Linked DNA regions of Homo sapiens: region 1 is linked to region 2. Evidence: fine-mapped expression QTL. A gene starts in region 2. The other region holds a variant in brackets. All regions are shown on one strand. Distances are from middle to middle. Region 1 overlaps NSDHL (NAD(P) dependent 3-beta-hydroxysteroid dehydrogenase NSDHL). Region 2 holds the start of CETN2 (centrin 2).

Region 1 (5,522 bases), 31 kb after region 2:
AGCTTGCTGCATCGTTACCAATCCTGGTTCTTAGAATTGTCTTTAGAGGACTCCAGCCACTGGCTAAAACGGCTCCCTGTCAGCTCAGTATCCTGACCCTCACAGGGATGCATGCCACAGGTACTGCATAAATTAAGAGAAAAACTTGAAGCAAGCCAGGGGGTTCCTCTCCCAACAACCTGTCCTGGCACTGTTGGCTGGTCCGCAGCATCCTCAGCCGGCCCAGCAGGGTTGGAGCTCTTCTGGGCTTGGGCCCTGGAAAAGATCACTTATAACTGACCCCTAGCAGTTGACAAGATGCTTTGCCCTGCTGAAGTTTTCACCTAATTAGCTCCTCGTTGGGTGACCAGGGGCTAAACGATGTCTCTTTGCTAGTAAATGGGAGAGGTGGGGTCAAAGCAGATTCTCCAAGTCCCAGACTCTGCACTCAGCCATGCTGATGTAACTGGAGCCCTGGGAAGGGCCCTGCTGCTCTTTGTTAAATGGAAGGTTGGGGGCATACAACAAAGATTTGTGCCCCAGGTGTGGCGGCTCACACATGTAATCCCAGCGCTTTGGGAGGCCAAGGCAGGAAGATCCCTTGAGCCAAGGAGTTCAAGACCAGCCTGAGCAACATAGCAATACCCCACCTCTACACGAATTTTTAAAAGCCAGGTGTGGTGGTATGCACCTGTAGCCTCAACTGTTTCGGGACGCTGAGGCAGGAGGATCGCTTGAGCCCAGGATTTTCAGGCTGCAGTGAGCTGTGATCCCAACACTACACCCCAGCCTAGGCAACAGAGCAAGACCTTGTCTCTTAAAAAAAAAATTAAAAAAACAACAAGATTTGAGAATAAAACAGCACCTCTCCACTCACCACAGCATTTAAGAAACAACATTACTGGCATGTGTAATGTGTGCCCATCCTCGATGCCATTGCTCTCTTCTTGTAGCCATGGATAGCAATTCTGAATTTGGGTTTATTTCCATTTGCTCCATGTGTAAGCAATATAAAGTATTGGATTGCATGTTATAAGATTTTATACAATGATATCTTATTGAACAGATCCTCCTGCAACTTGCTTTTTTCCCCAGTGTTATGTTTTTCTTTATTCATCTTGGCATATGTAACTCTGGTTTATTTACTGAAGGGGCAGAGTGGCTTAGTGGGTAAGAGTGCAGAAAGTGATTGCTGTGTTGTATTGAAGGAACATTTTCCAACACTGAGATCAAAAGATTATTTAATGTACTTTTTTTCCTCAAAGGTTTTAAGTGTTGCTTTCCACATTTCAGTCTTTAATCCACCAGGAATTTATGTTTGCTTATGGTGTGAGATAGAGATCTAACTTTCTTCCATGTGTATAACCAGTTCAGTGCCATTTATTGCATAATCCATCCTTTCTGCATCGCTGCACACCATCTGCAGCATGTCTTAGGTGTTTGTGTCTTACATGGGCCTGTTCCCAGGCTCTCCCCTCTGCCCCATTGACCTCCCTGTCTGCCCATGCAGAGAAGCTCTGCCTTTTTAGGATAAGTCTCAGTGTACCGTAGATAAATCACGCCCCCAACCAATTTCTTCAAACTTCACTTGGCTATTCTGAGCCCTTTGTTCTTCTACATATGTTTGGCTTAACCAGTTCCTTGCTAAAGCCAGCTGAGACTGCTGTTGTAATTGTGTTGAACTTGTAGGTAATTTTGGAGAGAATTGACATCTTTCCCATATTGAGTGTTCCTGTCCATAAATATGGGATATGTTTCTGTTTATCTCGCTCTTTAATGTCATCAATAGAGTTTTATACTTTACTTCGTAAAGATTTTGCATATCTCGTTAAATTTATTTGTATGTACTTCGTTTTTTGTTATTTAATAACTTTCTATTACATTTTCAGTTATTGCTAATATATAAGACGAGTTAATTTTTGTATATTGATTTTTAATTCAGCAACTTTGCCAAACGCTAATATTTTCTACATATTTGCCTGTGTTTTCTGTGTAGATTTTTCTCTCATCTGTAAGCGATGGAAGTTCAGTTTCTTTTCAAATCATTATAAATTCGTGTTTATCTTACCCTACCACTCTGGCTAGAGCTTCTCATACAATGTTGAATAAGAATGGGAACGATATGATTCATGCTAATGGTGTTCAGTGTTGGATGAGCTTCTCTTAACCAGCAGGCTGGACGCTGGGGACCCTCATAAGAGAATATCTTCCTTTAGAATAGCATTTCTTAAGAGGTCGTGTGGTGTGTGTATTCCTATGTGTGTTCACATGGCCAGGTCACTATCAGAATAGCCAGTGATCTTTTTCAGACATCTTCCTAGAAGTTTGCGGGCTGCCCTTCACTTACAACAGAGAATCGCTGTCATAGTGAGATACCATGAATGCAAGTCTATTCTATCTCTCAGGTGTGATGGGATAGAAAAAATGTGTTAT[C/T]CCTTGTTTTGAAACCAAGATCTCTTGATTCTTGGTTAGAATGTAATACATAGTGTGTCTGGAATCCACATAGCTGCAAAAGATGGTGATCTTTGGATTATTTTAAGAAGGCATGAAAAGCAAAGGCATTGCAGCAAATAATTTCTTCAGTGCCTCGAATGCGAGGGCAACAAAGGGATGCCCCTGATTCTCTTTCATACAGGATCATGCACTGTTTGAATTGTGATAATTTGTGACTTTTATTTTTTCTGACCTTCCTCTGTCAGAAACTCATTTTAACCAGCAGTGCCAGTGTCATCTTTGAGGGCGTCGATATCAAGAATGGAACTGAAGACCTTCCCTATGCCATGAAACCCATTGACTACTACACAGAGACTAAGATCTTACAGGAGAGGGTATGTACCTTGGAACTGGTTGAGTGAGCAGACTGAAGGGTTTAGAATCCTAAGAAAAATGTTTATGAACTTATGAAGTTTGTATTCTGAGGCCTACGTACCTGATTTGAGATGTAAAATTTGTGGGTGAAATTAAATTTAAAAATACTGTGAGAGGCCGGGCACGGTGGCTCACGCTTATAATCCCAGCACTTTGGGAGGCCGAGGTGGGTGGATCACCTGAGGTCAGGAGTTCGAGACCAGCCTGGCCAACATGGCGAAACCCCATCTCTACTAAAAATACAAAAATTAGCCCAGCATGGTGGCAGGCGCCTGTAATCCTAGCCACTTGGGAGGCTGAGGTATGAGAATTGCTTGAACCTGGGAGGCGGAGGTTGCAGTGAGCCGAGATTGTGCCATTGCACTCCAGCCTGGGGGATAGAGAGAGAGAGACGCTGTCTCCCAAAAAAAAAAAAGTTACTATGAGAACAGCTTTATGTGGCCAGACACTGTTCTGAGTGTTTTCCAGGAGTATTTTCCTTGTTTAAAGGTCACAATTATCGCATCATCACCAGATTATAGATGAAGACTGTGGTGCACAGATGCACAGAGAGGCTCAGAACCTTTCTAAAACTGTGCAGCTAGGAGGTGGCTGACCCCAGGCAGTCTGTCTACAGAGCTTACAGCCCACCCTCAATGCCATGGGAGCTTCCTCGCCTGCTATGGGAATTTACAGCAGTTGCAAGCGTGCAGACAGGAATCAGGCTGGAGGCACCTTCCTAGTGGCACTCTCACCCCCTCCCTTACTTAGAAAAACAAACAACGGAAGGATCTTGCTTTATTTTAAGGAAAAAGTACTTTTCCACTTGGCAAAACAGCTTCATCAAAGGGCACCTGATTTTAGTATGGTTGGATTCAGCCACGGTCGCTACCAAGCCTTCAGGCTGCTGGGGCTGTGGGGCCCCTGACAACTGCTAGCTGCAGATGGGGATTGTCACCCTGAGGCCATCCTAAGCTGCAGGCCAGGAGTGCTCCTGAGCCTGGGATAGCTCGTCTTAGCTGGGTAGCTGTGAGTATACCCCTCCCAGGTGTGTGCAGTGTATCACACCCACTGAGGTTTTCTCGCAAAGCCGGTACATGCTGTACTGGAGCTGAACACTGACCTGGCTACCTGAGAGCCAGCTGCCTCCTGGCTGTTTGCCGTATTTTTTTTTTTTTTCTTTTTTGAGATGGATTCTCACTCTGTTGCCCAGGCTGGAGTGCAGTGGCACGATCTCGGCTCACTGCAACCTCCACCTCCCAGGTTCAAGCGATTCTCCTGCCTCAGCCTCCTGAGTAGCTGGGATTACAGGCGCGTGCCACCATGCCCGGCTAATTTTTGTATTTTTAGTAGAGACGGGGTTTCACCGTGTTGGTCGGATGGTCTCGAACTCCTGACCTCATGATCTGCCCGCCTTGGCCTCTCAAAGTGCTGGGATTACAGGCGTGAGCCACCATGCCCAGCCTGTCTGCTGTTGCTTCAGCTCAGAAAGTCCTGGCAGAACTGGTCCACAGGGAGACACAAGGGCCACCCAGACCAGGGGTGGAGGCTTGAACTTTGGCAAGCCACAGTCCTGGCTCCAGACTATGCTGTCTTGCTCCTTGGAGCACTCATGTGCTCGAACTTGGCCCAAGGAGTACTAAAGCCTCCCTGCGCCTTGCAGGCAGTTCAGTCACCATGGAGACCCTGTGTATTCTCAACCCAATATGCCTGATACTGATTGCCACCAGAGCTGAGCCCATCTAGGCTCAGGAGCTTCAAATGATGGCCTTGGCCCAGACCATCAGTGTCTCGCTTATATCAACTTTTGGGTTCTCAACTGGAAATAAGCAAAGCCTGCAGATGACTCCAGCAGTAACTCACCGGAAGCCTCCTTTCAGCCGAGGTTGACATCCACTGTTGGCTTTATAACCTTCCTACTGATCATAAACCAAATGTGATGGGGAGCTAGGACTCCTTCACCTCTCTTCCCTTTAGTAGTAGAGATGAGCCTTGGTGGAAGCCATTTGAGGGTTTATTTAGTCATTTCCTCCATCGCTGTGGGGACCAGAGTCCTGGCGGGAAGAGGAGGGCCAGCTCTGGGAATCTGTTGAGAGGCAGCTTTTCCATTGTTGAGTTGCTTAAGATCACTGGGGCCAAAACATAGACCAGCACTTTGCTACCATAGAGTAGAAGAAACCCGAGGTGACATGACAGCAGGAACCGTACTTACCAAGCATACAGACACGCACTGAAGCAACTCACATGGGCCATCTCGTGTAATTCGCATGCAGCCCCGTCAGGGTAGGTACCTTTATGATCACCACTTTTACCCACGATAAAACAAATCCTTTGGAAAGTTTTGTTACTTTTGAGGCGAAACCCATTTCACTGTGCTTTAGACTCTTGAGTTCTAGTTTGTCCATGAAGTCACACAGAAGTCACCCTTTCCTTGCGGTGGCAACAGGAGCACTGGCTCTGGACCAGGCACTGCTCTGAGGACTTTACATGTCTCGGCCTCCTTTGCCCCCCAGCTGCTGGCCTGTTTCTCCCCAGGCATGGTCTTCAGACCCTTCACCTTCTCTGACCCTCTTCTGGGCCCACTTGGGTTTCTCAGAGCCCTCCCCTCGGAGGTGATACTCAGAATTGCCTGGAACAGACCCGGCCTGGTGGAAACGTGGGCGGCACATGCAGTTCAAGTCACTGGAGGCTCACGG
Region 2 (5,000 bases):
AAGAAACACCAGGCAAGCCAGGCACTCCATCCAAGGTGACGTTTGCTACCTATCGCTATATCTCTCCCTATCCCATATCTATTTCCTAACTGATTTGGAATTCTGTGGGAAGAGGTATCTGCTTGGAAGTCTTGAGAAAGAAGCACAAGGGCTTGTTTTGGGAGCCCAAAGTAACATGATGGGAGGGCAGGCCTCCTGATGCAGTTGCTACCTGGACTGCTCTGTGGTCACATGACTGTTTTAACAGGAAGACGCCATGGACCTCTGCAGATGACTGGGGCTCCATACCATGATAATTGTCTTAGCTACTTACCATTTTCTGGGTCATCACAGTTAAAAAGTCACCAAAGTTCATTTTTCCTGTCCCTTCCTTATCAATTTCACTTATCATTTTCTTAATTTCTTCTTTCTTGGGTTCAAAGCCCAGGGCCCTCATTGCCACCTATAAAGAAAACAGGATCGTCTCAATAAGCACATCTAAAGTAGCAGGAGCAAAAATAACAGTGTTGAGAGCATTAAGCCAGCATCTGATGTGGTCATGTTAATATGATTGGGGAACACTATGACATTGATCTAATTGATATTTGCAATCAATTTTATTGAATAATACTCAAAGTAAGTAAAGACAGGAAAACAGCACAGTACAACCTCCCCTGTTACTTACTGCAGGGAGAAGAGGGCAAAAGGGGTAGAGAGGTGATAGGGAGATGACAAGGAAGAGGCAGAGGAAAGGAAGGGCAGTACGGCAGGAATGCACAGAGCTTGCCTTCAGTTCTTTAACATCTATGGTGCCAGTTCCATCCGCATCGAAAAGATCAAAAGCTTCCCGGATCTCCTGCTTTTGCTCTTCAGTAAGCTCAGGCTTAGGGCTCATTCTTTTTCGCTGAGAACTTGATGCCATGTTTGCCTTCTTAAAGTTGGAGGCCTTTATATGTTATGCAATACACAAGCACAATAATATATCATACAGTCCATATTTACATAACATAGTTACAGACACCCATATGTATTTTTAAAGTCATTTATATAACCAATTCCAAAGCTTTGCTTAAAAAGAAAGATAACAGGGTTTACTGGCAAGAACAATGAATCTTTCCATGAACTTCTACCCCTCCCTTTTCTTTACTGTTGTTTCTAGAAGCAGGGAGATCACTTGTTCAGTAAGGACACCTCTTACTGAAAATCATCCCAAAAGAGAGCCAGTCAAGAAGATGACTGTGAATAACTAGAGATAATCAGCTCTTCCCGAACGTGGGGATCCTGGTTCTGAAAACAGTCTTACGATGCCCACTCCCAGTACTCCCCTTCCCAGTAAGTACTCCGACTTCCCAATTACTTCTAGATTTGGCCAAATATTAGTAAGTTGTTAAGATGTATATTGTGTCAGTACCGAGTAATAAAACTCAATCCATCTGGCACCTTCGTGCCTTCTCCAAGAAGCTAAAGCATCCCCTGAATGCCCCTGTATTTAAATTGTAAAAAACATTGTAACAGAACACGATACACCTTTTCCCAGCTGTGTGTGGAAATTTTGGCAGAATGAGGAGGCCAGGGGGCCAAGGTCTGAGAGAGTCAGGGGCCTGTGAGGGATTCGAGTCTTTTTTGCCCAGGGAGGTTCACCGAGGGGATCAGGGAATGCAAGGGGAGCCCGAGGGGCGGGTGTGGGCCTGTTGTGGGTGAAGAGGAGGCAGCAGCGAAGCGCAGGCCCAGTAGGTTGGTTAGCGTCTGTACCCTACTCTCCCGGGAAAGAGCTCAAAGGAAAGACTGGTGCGCTAAAGCCGAGAAAGGCGCAGGAGAGGCGGCGTGGCCGAGCTGGGGCCTGGGAAGGGCTCAGCCGCTGGGCGTGGGGCGCGACAGAGCGGCAGCACTCACCATAGCCAAAGGAGTCCGCTGCCGGTTGTTAGGCAACCGACGTGTACACTGACTCGGCGCCGTTCCCACCGCCCCGCGCGCGCAGCCCCGCTCCCCATTGGCCGTCCGCTCGTCGCCGCCTCTCCCTATTGGTGCAGGGCCGAAGAGGGTGGGACTAACCTGGCAAAGCCCCGGCCCAGCGCGGGGAGGGGCACGCTGGCGACAGAGCCCCGTCTTTATTGGGCAAGATCACGCCGTGAGCGCCAATTGGCTGAGTCGTCGCCGAGCTGGGCCAATCCTCTTGGTGGAGGAAGCTCGGCTGATTCTCGGCTCACGCGGGAGGGGAGTAAAGGGTGGCGGTCCGGGCCTGGAGTTCAGTGGGTGCAGCCTGCTTGCGAGCTGAGGCCAGACAGGGGGGCGCCTACGGACGGGTAAGAGTCGTGGCCTTGCCATTGGAGGTCACCCTGTGTCAGCGACTGGGCAGTGCGGGAGGGTGGGGAGCTACGGGGTCGCCCGGGTCGGGTGCTTTCTGGGTTGACCTAAGGCTGAGTTTAGGGACCGAGTGCATCAGAGCAGCCAGAAACGATTACCTTGCGTGTTGGAGCAGGGACTGTACTCACGGGGCAACTGAGACCCGGAGAGGGGAAGGGGTGTGCTGAGTGTTGTCGCAGAGGTCGGACGGCTGGGACCTAGGAACTGAATCCAGCCGAGGCTCGCTCTTTGAGGGTGGCCCTTCGAGAGCACCCCTAGACTGACCCAGATGTATAGGCCCCAGACCAGGTTCCAAGAGAGGATCACTTTAGATCTTACCTGGCTAAAAGCAGCCCAGGACGGTGAACTGGGGCCTTTGGGAACGGACTTTGAAAGGAGTGAGGGGGATGTGAGCGAGCATGAGGGGCGGGGAGAGGTCATCAAAATATACTCTTTTTGACACCCACACAATGCAGATAAGGAGGAGCATTCCAGGCCGAGACGCCCTCATCAGCAGAGTCACAGGAGTTTTGGAAGTGAGAGGTATGCTTGGAGAATTAAAAGGGAGCGTGTGCAAGGGCTGTGGACTGACATAGACCTGCAGAAGTGGAGCTGGAGGTCCAGTTTGCCCTCTTTAGCTATCCCCGTGGCTTTTAGCCTTCACCTGTTTTTCCTCCAGGCATAGGGGCAGTAATCTAGGGAGACAGAGGGCAGAGAGTAAGTTTCTCAGACAGAGAAAGGCCCGAGGCTTATTAGAACCTTTTAAATGGAGCTGCTGCCCTTTGCCCTCTTCTCTCTTCAGCAGTGAACAGATTCCTGACTTTTGGGTCATCATCATCCCCCCAAGTAGTACGAGCCAGAGTTCTCACTGTGATCTCCAAAGCTTGGCACGACGTGTCCCCTTCCATCGCTCCACAACTCTTCTCTCGTCTGGCTCACTCCAGCCCCAGAACACTGGCTTTGTGGTTGAACCTCATGTGCCAGCCACACTCCTGCCTCTCATCTTTGTCTCAGTTGTCCTCTCCGCCTGCCTCCTCTTAGGCACCCTATTTAAGTATTGCAGCCCCCAGTACAAACAAGCCACTCACCTTGCTCTACTTTTTTTTCCAACAGTTCTTATCCCCTTCTGACCTACTGTATATTTTGCTTGTTTGTTTTGCTCTTTGTTGTCCCTCCACTAGAAGGCAGGCTGTCTGAGGGCAGGCATCTTTGTTGTATTCACTACTGGTACTCCAGGACCTAGAACAGAGAGGGGCACATATTAGACAACTGATGAGTAGCTCCCCTGTTTCCCAGCTCTCACCTAGCTAGTCCTCCCTGCTCTACCAGGTTAATCTTCGTAGTGAACGGCCCTGGTCAGGGCATCTCCCTGCTCTTAAACCTTCAGAGCCTGAACCGTAAAGGGCTCCTTAGCCTGGCCTGTGATCCCTCTGCCCAGTTTTGCCCCTGGTAACCCTTCTAGCTTAATGTCCCTCCATACCTTGCTTCCCAGTCCGTCAACCTGCAGATCGGAAGCCTGACAGAGTACAAGGGAAAAACACAAGTTCTGCGCAGGCTGTGTGCAGGCTGTGTGACCTTGGGCAAGTCGCTTAACCTCTCTGAGCCTGTTTCTCATTTGTTGAGTGAGACCAGTACTGTCTACCTGATGGGATACTTTTGCATCTCAATGGGATGAACTACTTATATGTAAAGTGGCCTGATGTTGAGCAGGTCTTCAGGCAGTATTACAGTTGACCCCTGAACAACATGGGTTTGAACCTTGTGAGTCCATTTACAGGCAGATTTTTTTCTCATCTCTCCCACCGCTGAGCAGCAGGATCAGCTCCTCCTCATCTTCCTTCTCAGCATACTCATCAGGAAGACCGTGAGGATGGAGACCATGATGATCCACTTTCACTCAGTGAATAGTAAATATATTTTCTCTTCCTTATGATTTCATAGTAACATTTTCTTTTCTCTAGCTTAATTTATTGCTGGGACACAGTATGTAATACATGTAATGTACAAAATATTTGTTCATCAACTGTTTACATTATTGGTAAGGCTTCCAGCCAACAGTAAGCTATATTAGTGAAGTTTTAGGTGAGTCAAAAGTTATATGTGGATTTTTGACTTCGGGGCTCCGTGCCCCTAACCCCCACATTGTTCAAGAGTCAAATGTAGTTCTTGTCTCTGATTTGCTCTTGTCATTCCCCCCCGCCCACCATGCCTGGAGCCTTAGACTTGTCCAAAATCTCTTCCCTGCACTGCAGCCAAGGTGATCTTTCCAGTCGCAACACTCACTCCTGCTTCCAACTTCTAGGGGCTCCACCATCTTTCCCCCCTTGTAACTCCCTAGCTTGGCACACAGCCCCCACATGTTCTCAACTTTGCTCCCGATCTTGCTTCACACTTGCTGTGACACAGCTTGTCACTGTTATAAGAACATGCTGGCTCTGTGCCATCACTTTGTCCTTCCCACCCTGGCCATGGAATGTCTTTCAGGACACCATGCGCTCTGTTTTACTCACTCTTCTGGGGCCTTTTGAAGTCAGCTTAGGGATCTCCTAGTTGGGGCAGGCTTCCCTGAGCCAGCAGCCTGCATTGGTGCTCTGGGCTTGCCCTCATCAGAGTGGAAACGCACTTCTGTGACTCTTTGCTTGCTCCTGTCTCCCACCCTAGATGGCGGGCTCCTTGAA

Evidence for each region. PIP is the estimated chance that this variant, and not a neighbour inherited with it, causes the effect. A credible set is the group of variants that fine-mapping cannot tell apart.
Region 1: its variant is the best candidate, but not a certain one, in a credible set for the expression of CETN2 in blood mononuclear cells (TOPMed, PIP 0.50).

The regions. Positions count from the first base shown.
Region 1 is chrX:152,859,918-152,865,439 of GRCh38, forward strand. It overlaps NSDHL (NAD(P) dependent 3-beta-hydroxysteroid dehydrogenase NSDHL), which reads left to right. Exons shown (of 8, transcript NM_015922.3): 5 at 2,679-2,807. Among named protein-coding and RNA genes, the nearest start is that of NSDHL, 32 kb to the left of the region's middle. The variant C/T (reference allele first, on the strand shown) is at 2,413.
Region 2 is chrX:152,828,836-152,833,835 of GRCh38, forward strand. It overlaps CETN2 (centrin 2), which reads right to left and starts at 1,922. Exons shown (of 5, transcript NM_004344.3): 1 at 1,873-1,922; 2 at 767-925; 3 at 314-442. The coding sequence starts at 1,875. It overlaps NSDHL (NAD(P) dependent 3-beta-hydroxysteroid dehydrogenase NSDHL), which reads left to right and starts at 2,228. Exons shown (of 8, transcript NM_015922.3): 1 at 2,228-2,282. RefSeq lists a silencer at 1,822-2,161.